Regions from separate parts of the Homo sapiens genome. Here all the other regions are reported to be linked to region 3. The links are microRNA targets in miRTarBase. Many come from high-throughput screens and were not tested one by one. Region 3 holds a microRNA gene; each other region holds the end of a gene's coding sequence. Distances are between the middles of the regions.

Region 1 (3,575 bases), not on the chromosome of region 3:
TCTGCTGTTTCAAAATCAAGTCTGATTGATTGGTGATATGAATGTATGGGTAGATATTTAGAAATAGGGGACCATATGTTCTGGTCTGCCTGAGACCATCCATATGCCTGTTGTCATTATTAATAGTCCTCTCGCTTGCATCCTCACAGTCCGTCTGCCTATTGTCGTTATTGCTGGTCCTGTCCCTTGCCTCCTCACAGTCTGTCTGCCTGTTGTCGTTATTGATGCTCCTCTCCCTTGCCTCCTCACAGTCCGTCTGCCTGTTGTCATTATTGATGGTCCTCTCCCTTGCATCCTCACAGTCCGTCTGCCTGTTGTCATTATTAATAGTACTCACCCTTGCATTCTCAAAATGTACTAGTTTGTGTTGATAAATTATATGGTCACCCTACTTAGAAGGTACAAAGAAAGAATAAAAGAAGAAAGTTCTTCACCCCATCTCAGAATAACCAAGATCTTTATCTTTGCTGGGGTACTACCCCAAGGCAATTTTTTTTGGATACCATTTTTTAACCTTGACATAGTGGATACATCATTTCTTCCTCCATATATATTTTTCCTCCATTAAAAAAGAAACAAAAACTTTTTTATACCTGGGTTTTGCTCTTGATTTAGCTCTCAAGGTGGTCCTTGTTTACTTTTTAATAATCACTGCTCTTCATCTGTCAATATTTAATTGGTATGATTTATCCCAAAATTGTTTATAGAAAGTCAGTTTTTTGTTTTCAACTCTAGATCTTTGTTCCTGTTCCTCGAGCCTGGTGGTCACCCTCTGGCTTCTGCTAGGCAATCTGTTTCCTCTGCTGGCTGGATTTCTTCTGTGTATATGGCACTAGGAATGGAAAAGTGGATCTTCAAGATATTCTTTTATGTTATGTTCTTGTGAACAAAGCACAAAGTTTGAGTGAGTGCCAACCTATGCAGATGGTAGAAGTGGCATTCCTGGCTTTGGCTTGGAAGAATTGACGACCATCAGACCTTGAAGCAGAACTTCACAGCAGCCTGTCCTCATCAGCAACCCAACCACCTTCATCAGCAACCCAACCACCTTCATCAGCAACCCAACCACCTCGTCAGCAACCCAACCACCTCGTCAGCAACCCAACCACCTCGTCAGCAACCCAGCCACCTTCATCAGCAACCCAACCACCTCATCAGCAACCCAGCCACCTTCATCAGCAACCCAACCACCTCATCAGCAAACCAACCACTTTCATCTGCAACCCAACCACTTTCATCAGCAACTCAACACCTTCATCTGCAACCCAACCACCTTCATCAGCAAACCAACCACCTTCTTCAGCAACCCAACCACCTCATCTTGGAGAAGGAGAAGGAACTGCAAGCCACCAAGTCTTCATTTTTCAGGGTTTGTAATCTTCCCAAAGTTTTCCTTTGAAAATAGGATAATGGGTGGAATTTTCAGAGTGATTACATACCTCAACATTTTTATTAACATACAACAATGGGAAAGTTCATCATCCATATACTGCAGTCACTTAAACAACAGCCAATTATTGCAAGATTAGAATTGGAGATCTTGTCCTCAAAAGTATAAATTGTCCTTTGAGTTATAGAAAATAATGGAATTGGGATTTCTACATATCATTATTATACCTATTTTAAATTTAATGGCAGCCAGGCATGGTTCCAGCTACTTGGGAGGCTGAGGCAGGAGGATCGCTTGAGCCCAGGAGTTCAAGGCTGCAGTGAGCTATGATTGCACCACTGTATTCCAGCCTGCACGATAGAGTTAGACCCTGTATCTTAAAAAAAAAAAAATTAATGGCTGGTATATAGTAAACTTAATTCACTGTTCCCATTGTTCTAAAGAATTTTTTTAAATAATGTTTCATTAAATCTTATGATTTAACCGTGCTTGCCCTTTTTGCCAGCTATGTGGCAGTTTACGGCAGAACTGCTGTCAGTGTGCTGGTAGCCCTCTATTCATCCCTCCTCAGAGCCCAGCTTCCAGAACTGCTATCACTGTGCTGGTAGCCCTCTGTATTCATCCCTCTTCAGAGCTCAGCTTCTGGTTGTATTCTCCATGAGTTTAATAATGACATGAAAAAATGTGGAAGCCGAGAGAGTAAAATACTCTGCCCTGTAAAAACATGGAAGACATGCAAACAGAAAAAAAATAATTGTATTGTTTTAGATAATACTTAAGACAACTGTGAAACAACAAAAACACAACTATTCCTTTGTGACCGATGAAGATAAAAAGAAATTCTGGTAAAGACGGGTATGCAGTTTTTTAAAATGGGTTAAGAAATTGTTGCAGAAGAATTTCTAACATCTGAAAATGGTTTTATGTTTAAGAAGGATGGTCTGAATTGTGTACTAATAGCAAGGTATAAGTTTGGTGTAGAGCCTATCCAGTAGCGTCCACTGTACCACTTTTAAGTAAGACTCAGTCCACAGAAGCTGGAAGATTGCCTTCGCTTTAAATATCCTTTACCTTCTGCATTTGACACTCCTCCTGTTACTACATAGATTCCGGTCCCCAGAAGCAATTTTACACTGGTACTAGAGCTTACCAGCCCCATTTAGTAATTTTTAATGGCTAGATGAGGTTTAACAAGAATATGAAAAGAAAAAAGAAAAAATATATTCATGAATGATAGGCGATGCCCATTCTTTCTCTCAAGCTAATGAAGTCCTATGGCATTCTAACCACAACCCTCGGACAGACTCCTCCTATTCCTCCATGGCATTGTAACCACAACCCTCGGACAGACTCCTCCTATTCCTCCATGGCATTGTAACCACAACCCTCGGACAGACTCCTCCTACTCCTCCATGGCATTGTAACCACAACCCTCGGACAGACTCCTCCTACTCCTCCATGGCATTGTAACCACAACCCTCGGACAGACTCCTCCTACTCCTCCATGGCATTGTAACCACAACCCTCGGACAGACTCCTCCTATTCCTCCATGGCATTGTAACCACAACCCTCGGACAGACTCCTCCTATTCCTCCATGGCATTGTAACCACAACCCTCGGACAGACTCCTCCTATTCCTCCATGGCATTGTAACCACAACCCTCGGACAGACTCCTATTCCTCCATGGCATTGTAACCACAACCCTCGGACAGACTCCTCCTATTCCTCCATGGCATTGTAACCACAACCCTCGGACAGACTCCTTCTGTTCCTCCTTTCCTCGTCCTTCCCTGCTTTTCGTCCATTCAGCATATAGCTATTCAGTACTCCATTGAAGAAATTATGCTAAGTGAGCAAAGCAACATAATTACTAAGAATTAATTCTGATTATTTGGCACTAGAGCCAACAGCAACCCCAGCACAGAGGAAAGTCGCTTTTTTTTCAAATGCATAAATTTAAAGTATGTATTTGCATGCAGTTTTAAATGGGAGGTATTTGTCATTGTGAAAAGCTGGGAATCTCAAACATAGTCAACTTAACTAAAAAGAAGCTAATACAGGTTGAGCATTCCTAATCCAAAAATCCAGAATCCAAATTGCTCCAAAATCTGAAACTTTCTGAATGCTGACCTGATACTACAAGTAGAAAATTCCACATACAAGTACTTAACACAAACTTTGTT
Region 2 (3,000 bases), not on the chromosome of region 3:
ACCCCAGAGACCAGCTCCAGGTGGCACTGTCAGCCAATGGGGACTGGCTCCACTTGCTCTCCAGAGGGTTTTTCACCAGCTACCCATGTCAAGACTGTTTTGTGAATTCAAGTCTACTTCCTAAAAAAAAGGTCCTTTTGGATGGATTTGGCTAGTGTGCTATACTACTTTATTGTATAGAAAAACCTCTGCAAACTCTCACACAAGATTTAGCTTTCACCTGGCTGTTTTTGTAGGCAACAAAATAACAGTAAATGGACCCCAAAGTGATTTTCCAGATACAAAGTGACATCACATCGGCAGTAGTTCAGAAGAAGCCCTGGGTACTGGGGGATTTCATGGGTGGAAGAGACAAAGTCTAATTATCTTTTCCTCTGGCTCTCAGCAAAAAACAAGTGCAGATGTAAACAGGAAAAGAAAACCAATGTGAAGTAGAAAAACATACCTTTTGCATTGGCATTTACCTTAAAAATAACAAAAACACCAATTTTACTTAAGATGGTAGTTCTTTAACATTTCTTATAAGCCAGATGTTTTTCATTCAATTTCGGACATTGCCAACACACTTTTACAACTGATTCAAGTTATCTTCAGGCTTGGCTTTAGTTTGAATGTTCCCTTTCAAGCTCCTCAATACTCCTCTGTTCTTTACTTTTACCCCAATGTACTCCAATAATCACGCAATTTATTTATTACAGGCAATCATATACCAATCCTTCCTTGCCTTTAAATAGAGAAGCATCAAGTCATACCACTTTTGTTAAATAATAACCAAAGTTTTTTTCAATATTGTCTTAAAAGTAGCATCTTATAATGCATACAAACATTTTTCTAAAGATAAAAGCTTTACTAAACCCATATCCCTGATAATAAAAGTCAGCCAGAAATCTCCTAAAATTACTCCCAAATATATCCAAGTGTGCAAGTACAAGGTTAATATTATTTTGATGAATTCTGTATTCATTCAACTGCTAAATCACAGGATACAAGACCTGGGTTGAACTTTTTCTTAAATAGTTTACATGGGCAGTCCCTGGTTTGCTGGGCAGTTTCCTGTCTCATCAAATCCCTGGCAAGCTGGGAGGGAGGGAGGAGATGCTGAGCAGCCTCTATGGTCCTTCTTGAACCAAGCTGCTCCCTGCTGGATATGACAATGGCTCAGAAGCAGACTAGCAATTCTCAAAGGACAGGGAGAAAAATCACCACAGTTGCTGGCAGAAAACAGCCAGTGTACTATTTATTTCCTCAAGTGCTTCCATGGGGGAAAAAATAAAAGTCTAATATGCCAGAGAAATCATCATTGAACCAATAAGACACAGTAACATAATTCTAGTAACCTACTTCTCAATGAACACACATCTGAGAAAAAAACCGCCAGTATTTTATTCTCATGGAAAAACAGAACAAACCCACAAGTTGGAGTCACGGAGATAAAATACAGATGAAATGGAAAACGGTCTGTTGTCATGAACTCTCACTTTCAAATACCATTTTATATGGAAGTTACTTTACTGCGGGGCAAACAGAAGGCCATGCTGGAGTCTCTTACTTTTGGAAAATGGAGAATCAAAAATTTGCTAATCAACAAACAAAAAAGGAGGGAAACTCCTTGGTAAAGCTCTACAAACATAATTATACATTTATATTTTACCAATAAAAGATAGCTAGGGTAGAAAAAACAGATGGTTAGAAACTGGTGCCAAACCAAAGTGAAAGCTTTGGTGCCTTCTCTAAACTCCTATCCTGTTTCTTTAGAAAACACCAGTTTTCTAAAGAAAGATTACTCTGAATTCACCAGGGTTCTATCACCCCAATTCATCCCTACCTTTCCACCCCCAAGACACGAAAGGGCCATGTAGTTTTTTGTCCGGCACCACTTGGGAAGGGGCTGGGCTCAGGGGCTGGGAAGAGCTACCTGCTGCCCTAGCTTGAAAGGGAGGAGGTGGCCACACCATTCTTTGTATTTTTATCACGCACATAAAAGAACAAAAATCATTTGGCAGTTTTAAGTTTAATAGGTGCAAACCTTTACTTCAGGAATTAAACCCCTTATGATAAATAAAAGAATTAAATCAGATTTTTTTTTAATACAGATAGGGGTCTCGCTATGTTGCCCAGGCTGGTCTTGAACTCTTGGCCTCAAGCGATCTTCCCACCTTGGCCTCCCAAAGTGCCAGGATTACAGGCCTGAGCCACCACACCTAGCCCTAAATCAGAATTTTTTAAAAAAAATTTACTTAAAAGAAAAATGGAAAAATAAAACTTTCAACACTAGACTGCCGCCCTGTTAAGAATGTCTAATATGCAATCAAAGTATTGGAAAGCAGGCATTTTTACCAAAGAGCAATGTCACTATAACTTATGAACAGAAAGTTGTGAAATATAAGGGTACTCATGGAAACCAGTGAAGAGAGGAAACACCGGCAATTGTTCAACACGGAACAGTGAGCAGGTACTTTGGGAGTAAGGCTCTGAGAGATGGAAGACGCTGGTCTCAGATCTGAGGTGATGTCTGGCCAATCGTCTTGGCTCCAAGGGGGAAGAATGCAACTGGCAGGATTCGAGGAGAGGGCACTTCTGCAGCCCCCAAGCAAGTCTCTAGTTTTCGCCCCAAAGTGGATGCACTTTCTAACTTCAGCAAGGCCTCCTCAGGAGGATTTGCTTTCCGATGTGTAGTAGCGGTACAGGAAACCTAAGAGAACAGCGCCTATGATGGGTAAAATCCAATATGCCCAGCAACTAGGAATAGGGGGAGAAAGCAATAAAGTTGTTAATATTTTAAGCCAAATGTTCACTATCTTTCAGCTTTCACATGTTTTTATATAGGCAAGGAGTTTTTATTTACTTTGGGAAATTTAACTGCTTTTATCACAAAGTAGTTGGGGAAAAATATTTGAATTGGAGTGACAATATTACAAAGTAATTTTTTAAAAGGTTAAAAACAACCAATAGTATGATATCAAATAAGATGTCTTTAAATGCCTCTATATGTGTTTCTAC
Region 3 (3,575 bases):
TATATCACATGTGATATACATATATTTTCTTTATCCAGCCCACCACTCATGGGCACCTAGGTTGATTCCATGTCTTTGCTATTGTGAATAGTATGGTGAACACATGAGTGCATGTCTCTTTTTGGTAGAATGACCTGTATTCCTTAAGAGTATATACCCAGTAATAGGATTACTGGGTCAAATAGTAGTTCTAAGTTCTTCGAGAAATCACCAAACTGCTTTCCACAGTGGCTAAACTAACTTACATTCCCACTAACTGTGTCTAAGTGTAACCTTTTCTCCACAGCCTCATCAGCACATGCTGTTTTTTGACTTTTTAATGATAGCTGTTCTGACTGGTGTGAGATGGTATCTCATGGTTTTGCTTTGTATTTCTCTCATGATTAGTGATGGTGAGCATTTTTTCATGTTTGTTGGCCACTTGTCTTCTATTGAGAAGTGTCTGTTCACGTTCTTTGTCTATTTTTAAATAGGGTTATTTGGTTTTTGCTTGTTGATTTGTTTAAATTCCTTATAGACTGGATATTAGACCTTTGTCAGATGCATGGCTTGGGAATATTATCTCCCATTCTATATGTTGTCTGTTTACTCAGTTGATGGTTTCTTTTTCTGTGGAGAGCTCTTCAGTTTAATTAGGTCCCACTTAACAATTTTTGTTTTTGCTGCAATTGCTTTTGGGGACTTGGCCATAAATTCTTTGCCAAGGCTGATGTCAAGAGGGTATTCCCTAGGTTTTCTTCTGGGATTTTTATAGTTTGAGGTCTTACATTAAAATCTTTAACCCATTTGTAGCTGATTTGTGTATATGATGAAAGGGTCCAGTTTCATTCTTCTGCATATGATTAGACAGTTATCCTAGCACCATTTATTGAATACGGAGTCCTTCCCCAATTTATTGTTTTTGTCAGCCTTAGAAGACTGCCTATATTTCTAATTGATTACTCCTAATGGGTTTCAACTTAGCCAGAAGGATATTTCCAAAAATCAGATCAATCTTATTATAACTCTAAACCTGGCATCTGACTTCTCTCAGTGTAGACCAAGTAACAACACCAGACATAAGGAAACAGTGTGTATTAGGTGATTCAACCATAACACCTCACTATCACTAATACAGCATAAGCAAAGACATCCCACTCCTCTACCATCTCCCCCTTCATACTACATAGACATCCACACATGCACACACGTACACACATTCACACCCCCCCACCCACAACATGCACACACCCCTTTACATCATCATCAATACAACAGGCACTGGGAAAAAGATAAAGAGAGGGAGAAAGCCAACAACACATCCAACCCTATCCATATCGACACATAAACCCTGTTCAATACGTATACTATACAGAAGCCCTGCACAAGCTTTTAAAAAAGGAAAGTTTTACTACCCCAAATTAAGACTATTTTTAATCAGAAGTAAATAAAAAGTTATTTGTCAAACTGAGATATCACTGTTTCTTGTTGCCCAGCAGGGAAGGAATTCAACAAAGCAAACCTGGCAACAGTTATTGAAAAAAAAAATAGAATTGTCTTACATTCACAAACCATTAACTTGAAACTTCTTCATCAAAACTTTTATTTGTGCAAAGGCCTAGAGGTAAGAATAATCATGATTTATTCAGAGAAAGAAAGAAAATTTCAGAATGTTTGGAGCAGAGAAAACAAGAGAGAAGGAAAAAAGATGGGATTGAGTGGCTAAATGAAGGCAGTTTATAAATAACCCCCAAAGTATTATTCTAAATGTAATGGGGGATGATATTTAATCAGGATAATGCTATGATCTGACTGGATTTTTGGAACCATCCCTCTGGCTCCAATAGAAACATTTTTGGAAGTAATGAATTCAAAATACGGAAGACCAGAAAGGAAGGTGTTTTGAGACTAAAGACAAAAGATGATTGCCTGAACTATGATAATAACAAAAGATGAAGGTAAGCAAAAAATAAAAGGAGAGCCATTTTATCAAATAGAAACACAAGGCTTGATAACTGATTACATATAAAAAGTAAATGAGAAAAGGGCAAGTCATGGAAAATTATTGGGTATTTGGCTTTTATAATTAGGTAGATGGTGGTAATTTCACTGATAAAAAGGACACTAAAGGGGGATATTTATAGGATTTTATGTGGTGATATCTACTAGGTGACTAACAAATTAGATCTGAAGCTCTGGAGAAATATCTTGGCTGAAGATATAGATTTGAGAATCATGATTGAAATTATATAATTGAATTTGTGAGTATGAAAAATATAATCCTCAAAGAGAGGCTACGTGAAGCAAAAAAATAAAAATTCTATCTAGGCTAGAATCTGGAAGAAAATTCATATACAAGAGATTAGCAGAAAGCAGGGAAATTCAAAACAAACTGGGAAAAAGCAGAGTAATTAGAGAAAGTTTAAAAAATGTAATAATAATAGGGAAAAATATTTCACAAAGTAGGGAATATTCAAGATTGTATTAGGTTGGTGCAAAAGTGATTGTGGTTTTTGCTGTTACTTTTAATGGCAAAAACTGCAATCACTTTTGCACCAACCTAATAAATTTGCTGCACAGAGATCAAGTCAGTTGAGGATCAGTTAAAGAAATTATTGGTGACTCTGGCAAGAGCACTTTCAGTGGTGTAGCATGGGACTGGTCTATCAAAACTGCCATCTTATAATCATTCATATAAAACAACTAACCAATAATAAGAATATGGAAGACAGACTCGGCCTGTGTGCTTTGGCAACTTTAAGTTCCTTTGGTACTGCATATGCTGATCAACAAAGTAAATGATATTGAAGGTGTTGAGAGTATGGATACTATGCAATAAGAAATTACCCACAACACAAATGTACCAGAATTTGATTTGACGTGGAAATTTTACAAAATTTGTTTTGGGATTCAAGCTTGCTCTTTGGAAGAATAGTGAAAGACTTACTTATCATCTCCGGAACTCTAAACTTGCTGATGATCAAGGATGAGACAACCAAAATTATTATCACCATAAAAATATTAGTTAGAAGGATTGCATATCATTCAAAGTGTAGTATTACTACCTAAACATTCACTTTCAAATATATTCAAAATTGACTTGGAGTAAAAATTAATATCCATATATGCTTTATATGTTGCAATTCTTCCCAGAAAATCTTATCTTAGGGTCCATTTCACCATCAATATTTACAATGGCAGAGCTCAAAACAGAATAGCTTGCTCCTCCTTTGATCTAAATTGAAAGTGAGAGTCTACTGTATTGGGATTACACAGGTTTAGTGTATTGACCTCCACTGAGAAGGCTGGGAAATCATTGTGTTGTACAGTAATGTCAAATTATACACTTTGACTTTGAGCATTTTTAATGACAAAATTAAAATAAAATGTGGAAATTTTAATATTTATTCTTTTTTCCCAGAAGTTCATGCCATGAAGTGATATTCATCTTCAACTTCAACTTAGGCTGAATATTGACTTTAACCCTTGGCTAGACATTCAGCTAAAATGTGTAATTTCGTGGACCCTACCCAACAGTGTTTCATGGGCTTTTTTAGAAGGGTCTGCAATGTAGCATGCTTGCACAACAGTAAGTA
Region 4 (3,575 bases), 96 Mb from region 3:
TACAGGAACAGGCAGAAGCTGAAGGGTGTCAGAGGAGGAGGCTGCTGGTTCCAGTGAATGACGCTGACTCCGCTGACAGTAAGTGTTTTGTGCCTTGAGACGCAGCAGGAGGACAGGGAATAGGGACGGTGTCCTAACTGCTGTCCCTATAGCTGAGAGGGCTCTTCTGGAGGTTTCACTGCTGGAAGCAGGGGGCCCCATGTCGATCCTGTGCTGATCGTCCTTGGAGCATTGAGACCCTAAATCTCTTCTCTCTTCTCAGTCAGCACCTTGCTGGATGCCTCGGCAACACTGGAAGAAGGACATGCAAAGGAAACAATTCAGGACCAACTGGTGGGCTCCGAAAAGCTCTTTTATGAAGAAGATGAGGCAGGCTCTGCTACGTCCTGCCTGTGAAAGAATCTCTTCAGGAAACCAGAGCTTCCCTCATTTACCTTTTCTCCTACAAAGGGAAGCAGCCTGGAAGAAACAGTCCAGTACTTGACCCATGCCCCAACAAACTCTACTATCCAATATGGGGCAGCTTACCAATGGTCCTAGAACTTTGTTAACGCACTTGGAGTAATTTTTATGAAATACTGCGTGTGATAAGCAAACGGGAGAAATTTATATCAGATTCTTGGCTGCATAGTTATACGATTGTGTATTAAGGGTCGTTTTAGGCCACATGCGGTGGCTCATGCCTGTAATCCCAGCACTTTGATAGGCTGAGGCAGGTGGATTGCTTGAGCTCGGGAGTTTGAGACCAGCCTCATCAACACAGTGAAACTCCATCTCAATTTAAAAAGAAAAAAAGTGGTTTTAGGATGTCATTCTTTGCAGTTCTTCATCATGAGACAAGTCTTTTTTTCTGCTTCTTATATTGCAAGCTCCATCTCTACTGGTGTGTGCATTTAATGACATCTAACTACAGATGCCGCACAGCCACAATGCTTTGCCTTATAGTTTTTTAACTTTAGAACGGGATTATCTTGTTATTACCTGTATTTTCAGTTTCGGATATTTTTGACTTAATGATGAGATTATCAAGACGTAGCCCTATGCTAAGTCATGAGCATATGGACTTACGAGGGTTCGACTTAGAGTTTTGAGCTTTAAGATAGGATTATTGGGGCTTACCCCCACCTTAATTAGAGAAACATTTATATTGCTTACTACTGTAGGCTGTACATCTCTTTTCCGATTTTTGTATAATGATGTAAACATGGAAAAACTTTAGGAAATGCACTTATTAGGCTGTTTACATGGGTTGCCTGGATACAAATCAGCAGTCAAAAATGACTAAAAATATAACTAGTGACGGAGGGAGAAATCCTCCCTCTGTGGGAGGCACTTACTGCATTCCAGTTCTCCCTCCTGCGCCCTGAGACTGGACCAGGGTTTGATGGCTGGCAGCTTCTCAAGGGGCAGCTTGTCTTACTTGTTAATTTTAGAGGTATATAGCCATATTTATTTATAAATAAATATTTATTTATTTATTTATAAGTAGATGTTTACATATGCCCAGGATTTTGAAGAGCCTGGTATCTTTGGGAAGCCATGTGTCTGGTTTGTCGTGCTGGGACAGTCATGGGACTGCATCTTCCGACTTGTCCACAGCAGATGAGGACAGTGAGAATTAAGTTAGATCCGAGACTGCGAAGAGCTTCTCTTTCAAGCGCCATTACAGTTGAACGTTAGTGAATCTTGAGCCTCATTTGGGCTCAGGGCAGAGCAGGTGTTTATCTGCCCCGGCATCTGCCATGGCATCAAGAGGGAAGAGTGGACGGTGCTTGGGAATGGTGTGAAATGGTTGCCGACTCAGGCATGGATGGGCCCCTCTCGCTTCTGGTGGTCTGTGAACTGAGTCCCTGGGATGCCTTTTAGGGCAGAGATTCCTGAGCTGCGTTTTAGGGTACAGATTCCCTGTTTGAGGAGCTTGGCCCCTCTGTAAGCATCTGACTCATCTCAGAGATATCAATTCTTAAACACTGTGACAACAGGATCTAAAATGGCTGACACATTTGTCCTTGTGTCACGTTCCATTATTTTATTTAAAAACCTCAGTAATCGTTTTAGCTTCTTTCCAGCAAACTCTTCTCCACAGTAGCCCAGTCGTGGTAGGATAAATTACGGATATAGTCATTCTAGGGGTTTCAGTCTTTTCCATCTCAAGGCATTGTGTGTTTTGTTCCGGGACTGGTTTGGCTGGGACAAAGTTAGAACTGCCTGAAGTTCGCACATTCAGATTGTTGTGTCCATGGAGTTTTAGGAGGGGATGGCCTTTCCGGTCTTCGCACTTCCATCCTCTCCCACTTCCATCTGGCGTCCCACACCTTGTCCCCTGCACTTCTGGATGACACAGGGTGCTGCTGCCTCCTAGTCTTTGCCTTTGCTGGGCCTTCTGTGCAGGAGACTTGGTCTCAAAGCTCAGAGAGAGCCAGTCCGGTCCCAGCTCCTTTGTCCCTTCCTCAGAGGCCTTCCTTGAAGATGCATCTAGACTACCAGCCTTATCAGTGTTTAAGCTTATTCCTTTAACATAAGCTTCCTGACAACATGAAATTGTTGGGGTTTTTTGGCGTTGGTTGATTTGTTTAGGTTTTGCTTTATACCCGGGCCAAATAGCACATAACACCTGGTTATATATGAAATACTCATATGTTTATGACCAAAATAAATATGAAACCTCATATTAAAAAGGTGTGGTGTTCGTTTATTTCCATCCTCCTCTCCTGCTGTGACACAGCTCTGAGTGACAGGAGGCCAGGGCTTCGTTCCTGCTGGGCCTCCTTACTTGTCCCTTCTCTGCCTTCAGGCTTGGCCCGCCTGGCGGTGGGGGTGTGGGGGGAGTTTCCTGCCTATGACTCCCTGGATTTTAAAGGACCAGGTTCTTGGCTACTGGAATTCGCGCCTCCTCCCTGTTTCTCTCCTGTCTGCTCCTCCCTCTGGGGAGAGGGACAGCAGCCCTTCCCTGTATCCCCATCAGTGGACCCAGGTTGCTCAGCCCTGCAGGCACCTGTGAGAGCCATTTCCCACTCCCCTTGCGCTGGAGGACCTGCTCTCCCTCTGGCCCACAGCTCCCAGGAGGCCCAGGCGTGCTCCCATGCTGTCTGCCTTCCCTAGAGGGGAGGTGGGGCTGCGGCTGCTCCATGCTACCTCCTGCTTCCCGCCTGCACTGCCCATGGCCTCACTTGGAACCCTGGGCTGGGTGAGCTGCATGGAGGCTGAGCATGGAGGGGCCTGGGCTTGGGCAACATGGCTTCCCCCAGAGTTAGAGCTGCTTGTGTTGCCACCGCCTACTGTCTATGAGGATTTAACCCCTGATCTCCAAGTCTTGGCGCCACACAGCCATGGCAGGGGTTGTCTTTGTTTCAAGTTTGCTCTATCCCAGACCTAACCAGCGTTTTCCTGGAGCCCACCCCATGGCCAGGCCCTCTCAGCTAGAACATCTTTCTCAGGCAAGGTGACTCCTGAGCTCTGAGCCCAGAGCCCCACTGCCTCCTGGCTCTGCCCTTCCTCCGTGGGACTGCATCTTTTACATCTAAGAAGGATGTGGGCAGTGAAATTTGGGTCAGGGTTAGAAAACAGAAAGGGGC
Region 5 (3,533 bases), not on the chromosome of region 3:
AACAATAGGGAATATATGGGAACTAAATGGAAACTGTCATAAATACATGAAAAATGTGATGGAAAAGAACTTCTGGGCATGGTTTAATGATTATAAATGTGTATTCAATTTGTACCATGTGGAGGTTGGTTAAAAGTGAAAGTAATCTGCTATGACCAGTTTCAATATTTTATGAAAGTTCATCCTTCCCACTCATGGCATTGATGATCTTGTTGGTTCTCTGAAAAAATCTAGAAAAGGAGTACATAATTGTGCATTGTAGGACAATCATCAGTAAACAGGCTAGGACAAATTTAACTTGTAAAACAATTGTATTATGATGTGAATTCTGTCTGTTTTGTTTTGGTAGATAATGGGCTCTCAGAATAATCTCTCAGATGAAATAGAAGAACAAACACTAGGGAAGATACAAGAACTTAATGGACACTACAATAAGTATATGGAAAGTGTGATGAACCAGCTCTTGAGCATGGTCTGTGACATGAAACCAGAAATCCATGTGAACTACAGAGCCACCAACTAAATGTACATCACAGTTTTCAAGAAAAAAAAAGGTGTGTGAGTGCCACCTGGTTGCTTATGGCTTCGTATTTTTATGTTGAGAAATTTGAAATGAGAACCTTAAATTTACATTTACAGGAAATGTGACATAACTCATACATCGGCACTGAATTAAACAAAACAAAATACAACTGTTGCTATATCTTTTCTAGTAATAATTATGACCTTGTCACTTAACTTGGAGTAAGTCAAGAATGCAAAATAGTAACATGTTTTTTAACACTTGAAAGAAAAACATGGTCATGACAGCTTTTTAGTGGGCATGGGTTTTTTATTTCTTCTCCTTTTCATCGATTTAGAAAATGTGCTCTTAATTGTATTAAATGGTAATTTGCTAAAAGATAATCTTTAAGCAAGATATAATTATGACTCTTCAACAGATCTAAAAATGAACATGTCAAGGGTCTTATTTAATTCAGTAATCAATGGGAAACCAGTAAAACAGAGAGATAGAGACAAAGAATGATGGGTTATATAGCCACTTTTAAACATAGATGGGGTTTATAATCATTCTGTCTGTCTGACCTCAACTAAACAGATATTATTTTTAAAAGAAAAAAGTAAATGATAAATAAGCTAATAACATAGATTTTGGAGCTTTGAAAAAAAAAAAAAAGAAATACAAAGAAAACTCCCAGGAGATATACTAGGTTAGTGTGCCACTAGCCCAGTCTCCTAGTTACAGCTAAGCTAAACTCTTGTTAAATACTAAGTATTTTGTTAGTGCAATGTATATATCATCTCAATCCTACCTTGTAAGCAGTATTAGTGCTCTTGTTTTACAAAATGAGATGCAAAGATGAAGGAACTTATCTGGAGTTGTTTGGATAACAGTGGCAGCACTGAGCTTTGAACTGGGCAATGTGACTCCAATGTTCACACCCTTTACTTCTTACCAAACTGCTTACCTGCACAGCTCCTATATTTGCATTAGTAAGAAGCATGGGTGCTATAAAGTCTTTGATTTTCCAGTAATATATGCAGACAAATTTTAATTCCAGTCTAAACAAAAGTTAATTATTGTCACCAAACTATTCATATAATCTTCAATTATATGAATCTCTGATTATATGTATAGTTTGGTAACAATAATTAACTTTTGTTTAGACTGGAATTAAAATCATAAACTGAAATGGTTTTAATTGATCATTGTTTTAGATCAGTGGTCCCCAACCTTTTTAGCACCAGGGACCAGTTTCGTGGAAGACAATTTTTCCAAGAATGGAGGGGTAGTGGGGTAAGATAGTTTTGGGATGAAATTGTTCCACCTCAGATCATCAGGCATTAGAGTCTCATAAGGGACATGCAACCTAAATCCCTCACATGTGCAGTTCACAATAGGATTCGCGCTCCTATGATAATCTAATGCCGCTGCTGATTTGACAGGAGGCCATGCTCAGGTGGTAATGCTTGCTCAACTACCACTCACCTTCTGCTGTGTGGCCCGGTTCCTAACAAGCCACAGACAGGTACCAGTCTGTGGCCCAGGCACTGGGGACCCCTGTTTTAGATCACTAGTATCATTGTTTCTTTTTAGGAGAAAAAGTTAAAATTTTACCACATATCTTAGTACCTCGGAAATAGTCAATTTTATATGCATGTTAGGTAAATGGAGCAAAATTTGAATTCTATTTGTTTCTCCATTTTCCCAACTTTGGGGGCAAGGAAAACCAAACCAGTTGATTGGTTTTATGTGGTATATTTCCCCATTTATTAGAATGAGAACTGATTGCCAATTAAAGAAGAGAAAGATATCAAATATTCCTAGGAACACTGGCTCCCATTTTTTGAGGGGGGTGGAGGAGAAGGCATCAATTAAAGTTGTGTCTCCCTGACATTAGGACAGTGTTGGAGGATTTCTACTCAACACAGATTTGGAGAATTCAATTACTCTATTCTGCAAAGCTTAGATAAATAAAATAATGAGTAAAATTGCACATTTTGGGAGTTATCACGTGAAAAGATAATTCTGAAAAAGATAGCATTGTGATTTGCCTTATATCATAAGATGCAGTTTTCTGTCTTGTCTCATGAAAACCATCAAGACGCCAGTTTTCTGGATGTGAAAGCTTGAATATGTTATATGGAACACTCAAGTTAATAATAAATTCCTGAGCCAGCACAAGAGAAAGGATATCTTTTAGGCCCTAAATACTATAGAAACACATTAAAGTCAGTAGAGGATTTTTCTCAGAAGTAAAGAGGAGCCAGGTCTAGAAGAAAGAGATGAGACTTAGGCATCAGCACACTGTACATCCAGTCCTGCCAGCGCCACAAGCTTTCTATGTCCTATTGGCAACTCACTCAACCTCTCTGGGCCTACGATTCTTTTTTAGTGCTGTAATCTGAAAATGGTGTTGAAATAAATGATCTCTGTAGGCCCTTTAACACTTATTTTTACATACTAAGTCAGACCAATTTTTCAAAAGCAGTATTTATTACTTTTAGTTTTTTCATTCACTACTGTAGTATTTGTCAATTTCTCAACAATCTCACGTTTATTCTAAACACTGTATTGTTAAGAGTATGTGCTGTTGCTGCCCCCAATATCCTAGATTCTGTGTAGTTTGCATATTTTTACATTCAAATATGGTTTCACATCTTTGCCTAACTGAATGAGTCATTTTCTAAGAACTCTCACACCTTCACAGATGGTAGAGCTGCCAGGTTTTACTTTATTTACATATGAAAAGGTTTTATGTATTTCAGAGCTAGCTCACTTATCTGTGAGAGCTTTCTCAGTCACAGAAAAAAAGTTGACTTTTTTGTACGTATACTTATACTAAAAGGCTTTTTCTGTTCCGATAGATCTTCACACAGAAATAGAATAGTGTTAGCATGTTTTTAATTGGTCTTTACCCTTGTTTTGATCCTTTGCACAATCAGAAACTACAAAATGAAAAATTATTCCATTGAGTTCTTACTCATTTCCATTGCACTTAAAAACAAAACCATGCAATTTACAGGCTTGC
Region 6 (3,575 bases), not on the chromosome of region 3:
AGAGACAGAACCTGGGAGAAATTCAGTGAGCTGCCACTTACTGTTAACTACTCCACAGAAGAACTATATGTTTATTGGAATTCAGTAAATGTGGCATGTAAGGATTTAGTCAATGTCTGGCAAAATGCTGCCACTTAGGACCCATTTGGCTAATACTAGAAGTAGTCATCAAGTTAACTGTAACTGCCCAACATTTTCTTAGAAGCCAAAGAACTTAAACTTTTATAGAAGAACGCCCAGTCAGTACTATATTAATGTGTGTATTACATTTATTGACTGTTGAACAGAGCCTGATTCCCAAGAGTCTTTAAGGCCATAATAAATGCAAAAATTGTAACTAAATTTCCTTTGTACTCTTCAGTCTTTCTTGTAACCTCAATGAAACTGAAAGTACTATTTTAAAAGTACAATGACTACGACAAAATTCCATTTAAAAATCTTTAAAGTGTTGGGTTCTGAGGCTTTTGAACTTGAATATTTACACTGACCCCAATAAATTCTCCTCTAACCAAGTTCTCATGTCAGCCAAGGGGGATTATGCTGGATAGTAAGGATGTCTACAAGTAAATCCACTTGCAAAACTATAAAAGGAGCTTCAGGGGCATTTAATGGTCTGGAAGATCTAGAAAGATCCAAGGAGGGTAGGGAGTAATATTCATCCACCACAGCCACCTCACCCACATTCCAGAGTTGCTGAAATTATTACACACATGTAAACATAAGGACAAGACAAAGTTTTTTCAAGAAATTAGAAAGGAATGACCGGGCGCGGTGGTGGCTCACGCCTATAATCCCATCACTTTGGGAGGCCGAGGCAGGCAGATCACAAGGTCAGGAGATCGAGACCACCCTGGCTAACACGGTGAAACCCTGTCTCTACTAAAAATACAAAAAATTAGCTGGGCGTGGTGGCGGGTGCCTGTAGTCCCCAGCTACTCAGGAGGCTGAGGCAGGAGAATGGTGTGAACGTGGGAGGCAGAGCTGGCAGTGAACCAAGATCGCACCACTGCACTCTAGCCTGGGCGACAGAGCGAGAGACTGTCTCAAAAAAAAAAAAAAAAAAGAAAAGAAAAGAAATTAGAAAGGAACATGGCTTAACCATGTCTATTTAGACATAAGTTAATATATAGGACAAAGTTACCTATCCCTTCTCATTGACTTAATAACAAAACTCTCAAAATGGGCTTTTATTGGATATTATTGTGATTAAAACTTTCCAATTTCTCCTTCACTATTATAGCAAGCTATAGGAGATGTCTTGTTTTCCAGCTCCATATCTGCTGAATAGACTAACCAAACAGAAGCCTTCAGTCTCTGTAAGCCATTCTTGCTCAAGAAAGTAGTCCTGAGAACAGTCTAGAAGAAACCAATCCTGAAACAAAGAAAACTTTTCCACTAAACTCTCCTGACATTCATACATTTTGCAAGGGAGAACGCATTTAATTAAGCTGCTATTGTCATTGCAACAAGTCTTAACTGTACCATGGAGATATGTTTTGGTTATACATTGAAATAATAGCATGTTTAATTAAGGTATTACAGAATGTTTCTGTTTCACTATATTCATAGCAAAAATTTTTCAATGTATCAGTGACAGTTGAGATTAAAGAAAAAATCAACCCTGAATATAGCTAACATATTGGGATGAAAATTTCCCTCTAGCTGCCTTTCCCTCTGAAGCATCTACATATTTTCCTTGTTAATAAGCAATGCTTTCACATAAATTATTTAATTATATGGCTTTGTCATGCTGCTGACATAAAACATATCTGCAAAAGCAAGGACTGGATTCCTAAATGTCTGTAGGAAGATTTAGTGAAGATTCAGTGCTCATCACTGTGGAGTTCCCACTGGCTGATAAAAACCTGCAAGAAACCTGTATAATAAAGACAGGCGTGCATCCCTAGAAGCACAGGGTGATGGCTCCAAAATCTTTCCTTCTAGTTTGGAAGGAGCAAGGTGTCTCCCGTCTTCCCCAGCACAGCTGTGCCAATTGTCAAGTGTGTCACTGACTATGCAAAAGCTGCAGGGTAGATCTGCAGGTGAGGAGGTACAAGGCAGAAAAGCCAGAACCGGGGAGTGTCCAGGGGCACCTGCAGCCCTGTGATTCTATGTTACTTGCCAGTGATGTGCCTCCTGGTGGATGTGATACTAATGTTCCTGGTTGAAATACTGCAGGGAAACAAAGGGCCTCCTCTGTGGTGCTATATGGAATTTGGCTTTTTCTTGGACCTTTCAAGATGGATGTTTTCTGGTTTTAGAACTCTGTCTTGATGCACAGAAAGCAAAGCATTCAGTGGGCAATGGGAGGCAGAGATGAAGAATGCAACGGTTGGAAATAAAAGCCTTTGCCAGGATGTGCTGGGAATTTTTTGCTGTTAAACACATCTGAGTGATAATTTCAATGTCTGTCATAAAACCTAGGATATTTAATGATGAATGCATGTATAACTGACACACTCGATGCTGTAAATGATGTCCCTCAATTTGAATGTTTCTAAACATAAACCACTTCATATGGTCAGGAACATCACCAAAACCTGTCATTGAAACCAACCCTGATGAGGGGTACTCATGGCAGAAGAATAAGTTGTTAACATTTCTGGAGGTATCATACCCATGGTCATACATGTGTTTTCTTTCTAGCTATCCTTGGTTTTGCATCTTTCTTGAGCCTTATTTTTTTAAAAAAACCATTTCTATGTTCAAAGCAGTAATACATACTCAATGGCTTAGAAAGAGAAGGATTATCATGACCACCACTAAATTACTGTTTAAAGACTCAAAACTACACTGTCTAAAATCTATCTTCAAGTATTCTTTTGTGACTTTGAGTACAACAGTAGTACCTTATTGCACATTGATTCCCAAGAAACCCTTTTTAAGAGTGTGGAATGACTGGACTTGGTGCAGGGCAGTGCACCGCCTGGAAGCCGGGAAGAACCACCTTGCCCTTGCGATGCAAATCCCCCTGCGTGCCCATGTTCAGGCGCTGCACCAGGAGCTTCTCATAGAGTAGTGGGTGGTACGCCCCGAGGGTGCAGGCTGCGTCGTAGTACAGCTCGTGGTAGTGGCACAGCTCCGTCTGCCGCACGGATGGGATATATTCATACACGTGCACCTCTCTGCACATGGACATCATTATGAGGATTCCTGACATGAAAACCAAAAATTAGAACCTAATGAACAACTCCATGTGAGAGGGATGAGTTTTTTGGGGGAGGGGTGGTGGTGATGGGATATGACTGTGGCAAGAGACACTTACTTTTTTGTTGTTGTTGCATTTGCAATGTTATAACTTCCATTAAGTGGTGTGTATGCAGTTCATGGAGTATGGGGGCATATTAAAATGTAACACTATATATATATATATCTATTCGCTCATTTAATTTATCACTGTGGGCCTGGTAAGGAGAGATGAAAAGAAGTCAGTGAACTTGAGGGAACCACACGCTAGTGAAGGACAGATTTGCAACCCCCCAAATCAGAGTTTCCTGTATCACATTCTATACACATGTCCCATCTGGTTTGCAATGATGGGACAGTTATGTTCCAAAGAAACAAATGCCATAAAA
Region 7 (3,575 bases), not on the chromosome of region 3:
TTTTTAAACTTCCTTTTGACTATGCTGTTCTTTCTGGCACAATTTTCCTTTTACTGAAACGTATAACAATAATTATGCCACAAGGACAATTCCATAAAACTTGGAATTCTTTCAGGCATTAATGAGATTCACATGTTGCCTTTCATGGCAGACGAGAGAAATCAAAAAGAAATTGTATTTGTCTACCTGGTCAATGGAAATTTATTACTTTGATTTGAAGAATTGTATTCGAAGAATTTTCATTTTCAATGTAGCCAATATTTATTTGTTCTTCTGGAAATTTAATTCATTACTTTTATTCGAAGAATTTTCAATCTGCAGTTACTTTAGTTTAACCCAAACTAACTGAATTTATATGTCTTTACAACTTTTTTTAGCCAAAATGTACCTTGAGACAGACCCTTCTGGAAGAGACAAGAGGACACCAATTGTCATCATAAAACAGGGCCATGAGCCACCCACATTCACAGGCTGGTTCCTGGGCTGGGATTCCAGCAAGTGGTAAATTGGTATTTGTAAAAAGCAAACAAACATTACAAGGCAGTTATCTCATTGCTGTTTTGGGAGAGGAACGGGAAAAGCTTTTTGCTTATTTGTCTTTTGAAAATTAAGGCTGGGCGCGGTGGCTCACACCTGTAATCCCAGCACTTTGAGAGGATGAGGTAGGCGGATCACTGGGGTCAGGATTTCGAGACCAGCCTGGCCAACATGGCGAAACCTCGCCTCTACTAAAAATACAAAAAAATTAGCTGCGCGTGGTGGTGCACGCCTGTAGTCCCTGCTACTTGGAAGGCTGAGACAGGAAAATTGCTTGAACCCAGGAGGCTGAGGTTGCAGTGAGCCAGGATTGCGCCACCACACTCCAGCCTGGGCAACAGAGACTCTGTCTCAAAAAAAAAAAAAAAAAAAATTAACCTCAACCAAACGCCTATTTTTTAATGCTTAGTTTTGGCTTGAAATTCTTCTTCACCTGGAGTTTTCTTACGTTAATACATTAAAATAACCTGAAGGAAACTTTCGTTATGGGCCAATATTAGCTCTTATGGAAACTGATTTATATCTTTTTTATGACCTTTCAAAAGTAAAATACTATGCATAATCTAGAAAGATTTGTCAGATAGGAAATTTTATAATGCATTAGCCATTAGTCAGAGTTGTTTTTTAACATGCCAGAGAAAAAGTTGTAATGCCTTGGAAGTTATTCTCTTTTCTATAGATTGTGTTCAAAAGATGTGTATACTTGCAATAAGGTTTATGTTAAGGTGGCTTTAACAATTGGTTGCTATTTTCCTTCTTTAGTCAATATGACTTTGATGTCATTAACTGCTAAGTGTTATTTTCTAAGAGGAATTTTATCTTTTTTTTAACCTTATTAAAAGCCTTTGAAAACACAGCTCTTTCATGACAAAATGAATTGTATTGTTATCCACTTAGATACATGTACATGTACAGTACATGTTTAATATCACAGGAGATCAAAAAGACAATGCACAGGGGAGTATCCCAGGGAGCAGAGCCAAGTTCAAGTAAGTTAACGATATCAAGTTACTTACTGGCAGGTAGCCACTAGAGAATCTTAGCAATTTTTGTCCTGCAAGATTTCAGCAAAGCTACAGAAAAGTGAGTTTTTATGTTTTCCATTCTTCCCTTTTCTAAGTAATAATTTTTATCGCAGTTACCCTGATTCTATTCCATTCCATTCTATTCTATTCTATTATTTCATTCTATTTTATTTCCAATATACCATTGTATATCAGTATATACTGATACACTGAGTGGCAGTTGCATTATCTACTAATCTATATAGGTCATTGAAAAAGAAGAAGCTACGTTAGAACCCATGGAAAGAACTTTGCCTCATGTAGAGATTCTAGATTCTTAGCCAAAAGCTCAGAATTGTTGGGCCCTAAAGGATGAACAATGTAGGGTCCAACAATTCATCCCACATGAATTTTTCTCATCCTTCATGTGGAATGAAAAAACTAAAGAGACAACTGACTTACCACACAAATGGACTATGGTAGAAGCTGCTGTCCCTTAGTATTGAATATCTCTATTTTCTTTTAATCATAGAATTCACTGATATTTTAGCAGATAATGTGGCCGTCCAGGCAGGCATGAGATTTCTCAGCCTTACTTCAACTTGATTATGACCATGTGACCCAATTCTGACATTTGCCTAAAGGAAAATTTACCTAAAAAGGCGTTTTCTTGCTATGGCAGTGTAACCTGTACTAATAAATATAGTGCTAGTCCTGCATGCAACAAAAATGATGTAAGTAGACATTTAACATTTCTAGGAATGTAATTGAGTGAAAAATAATTTTTAAAAATATTTATAAATATCTTCTGGGTCAAGCTGAATATTTTTTGAAGGATGATGAGAATAAAATGATTTAATAAGTAGTACTTTTTCACAAAATTAGTAAAGGTCAAGGTGAGTGGCTTAGGGTACACTGTATTTTACGATGTTTCTCTAGTTTAGCCAGTGGTTTTTCTCATCTCCAATTTATAGCACAGGCCGAGGCATATAGTAGGGTCTCAGTTAATATTTATTGAATGGCAATATCAAAAATGAGATCAGCAGCAAGATGATAAGGCAGAATAAAAGTTGCTGAGAGCCTAAAATGATTATTCAGTTCTGTTGCAGGGTTTTAACCTGCCCAAAGGATGGAAAAAGAAGAACATAAGCATAATTTCTGAATGCATCACGGCAAAGATGCATGTACTCATGAAGCATAAAATTAAAAATATGATACATTCACTACATGAAAATATGATATACGGTTTTTCTTCAGTATCCGCGGGAGATTGGCTCGAGGAACCCCATGGATACCAACATCCTTGAATGCTCAAGTCCCTTATATAAAACGGCATAGTATTTGCATAAAACCTATACCATTCTCCTGTATACTCTAAGTCATCTCTGCGTTACTTATAATACCTAATACAGTGTAAACGCTGTGTAAACAGTTGTTATACTATATTGGTTTTTTAATTTGCATTACTTTTGTATTGTTGTATTATTTTATTGTTTTTCCCCAAATAGTTTTGATCCGCAGATGTAGAACCCACAGATATGATAAATCAACTGTATCTAGTACCCAAAACAGATGAGTAACTTAGAAATTAATATGTAATACATACAGCTAATGTTATAGCTACTTAAGGAATTCCTTTCACTGAAAAGAAACTCTTACAAATCAATGAGTCAACAACCCAATGGAAAAATGGCCAAAAGACATGAATAGAAGTTCACAGAAAAGAATGAAAATGACCAGTAAATAATGAAAAGATGTTCTAAGACACTCTTAATTAAATAAATTCACAATAAAATAATCATACTTTTATCTATCTACCAGATTAGCAAATGTTAAAATATTAAAATGTTAGTGGTCATCAAAATGTAGGGTTACAGGTTCACCCATACACTGTTAATAGATGTATAAACTGGTCAAAACTTTTTGATCCATAGCACAGTATTACTTTTGTAAACATACACAAAAAATATTATATATTTGCCAAACGTATGTACTAATCTAAAACCAAACACATTAGACTAGGTACATGTGGAG

The links. Region 3 holds the annotated microRNA hsa-miR-548az-3p (AAAAACUGCAAUCACUUUUGC, at 2,513-2,533, shown strand). A microRNA usually pairs through its seed, bases 2 to 8, with sites in the 3' UTR of a target mRNA and lowers its output. Matches are read on the target gene's strand: a 7mer-m8 pairs with bases 2 to 8, a 7mer-A1 pairs with bases 2 to 7 and ends in A, and an 8mer does both.
Region 1: the mRNA of LMLN is a reported target of hsa-miR-548az-3p. Seed matches in the 3' UTR shown: 7mer-m8 at 2,251-2,257 and 8mer at 3,369-3,376.
Region 2: the mRNA of CYB5B is a reported target of hsa-miR-548az-3p. Seed matches in the 3' UTR shown: 7mer-A1 at 2,258-2,264.
Region 4: miRTarBase lists TNFRSF10D as a target of hsa-miR-548az-3p. Seed matches in the 3' UTR shown: 7mer-A1 at 2,244-2,250.
Region 5: miRTarBase lists ATP6V1G3 as a target of hsa-miR-548az-3p. Seed matches in the 3' UTR shown: 7mer-m8 at 534-540.
Region 6: the mRNA of ST6GAL2 is a reported target of hsa-miR-548az-3p. Seed matches in the 3' UTR shown: 7mer-A1 at 1,208-1,214.
Region 7: miRTarBase lists SCIN as a target of hsa-miR-548az-3p. The part of its 3' UTR that is shown has no 7-base or 8-base seed match.

What each region holds. Positions count from the first base shown.
Region 1 is chr3:198,037,832-198,041,406 of GRCh38, forward strand. It overlaps LMLN (leishmanolysin like peptidase), which reads left to right. Exons shown (of 17, transcript NM_001136049.3): 17 at 736-3,575. The coding sequence ends at 836. It overlaps LMLN-AS1 (LMLN antisense RNA 1), which reads right to left and starts at 1,636. Exons shown (of 4, transcript NR_046669.1): 1 at 1,618-1,636; 2 at 1,316-1,393; 3 at 917-1,027; 4 at 490-832.
Region 2 is chr16:69,462,169-69,465,168 of GRCh38, reverse strand. CYB5B (cytochrome b5 type B) reads right to left here. Exons shown (of 5, transcript NM_030579.3): 5 at 1-2,739. The coding sequence ends at 2,649. Among named protein-coding and RNA genes, the nearest start is that of CYB5B, 39 kb to the right of the region's middle.
Region 3 is chr8:119,322,716-119,326,290 of GRCh38, forward strand. MIR548AZ (microRNA 548az) reads left to right here and starts at 2,456; the gene lies at 2,456-2,550.
Region 4 is chr8:23,134,691-23,138,265 of GRCh38, reverse strand. TNFRSF10D (TNF receptor superfamily member 10d) reads left to right here. Exons shown (of 9, transcript NM_003840.5): 8 at 6-78; 9 at 263-2,678. The coding sequence ends at 396. Among named protein-coding and RNA genes, the nearest start is that of TNFRSF10D, 28 kb to the left of the region's middle.
Region 5 is chr1:198,520,381-198,523,913 of GRCh38, reverse strand. It overlaps ATP6V1G3 (ATPase H+ transporting V1 subunit G3), which reads left to right. Exons shown (of 3, transcript NM_001376861.1): 3 at 350-692. The coding sequence ends at 523. Among named protein-coding and RNA genes, the nearest start is that of ATP6V1G3, 19 kb to the left of the region's middle.
Region 6 is chr2:106,803,797-106,807,371 of GRCh38, forward strand. ST6GAL2 (ST6 beta-galactoside alpha-2,6-sialyltransferase 2) reads right to left here. Exons shown (of 6, transcript NM_001142351.2): 6 at 1-3,153. The coding sequence ends at 2,882. Among named protein-coding and RNA genes, the nearest start is that of ST6GAL2, 81 kb to the right of the region's middle.
Region 7 is chr7:12,652,211-12,655,785 of GRCh38, forward strand. SCIN (scinderin) reads left to right here. Exons shown (of 16, transcript NM_001112706.3): 16 at 378-3,575. The coding sequence ends at 505. Among named protein-coding and RNA genes, the nearest start is that of ARL4A, 34 kb to the right of the region's middle.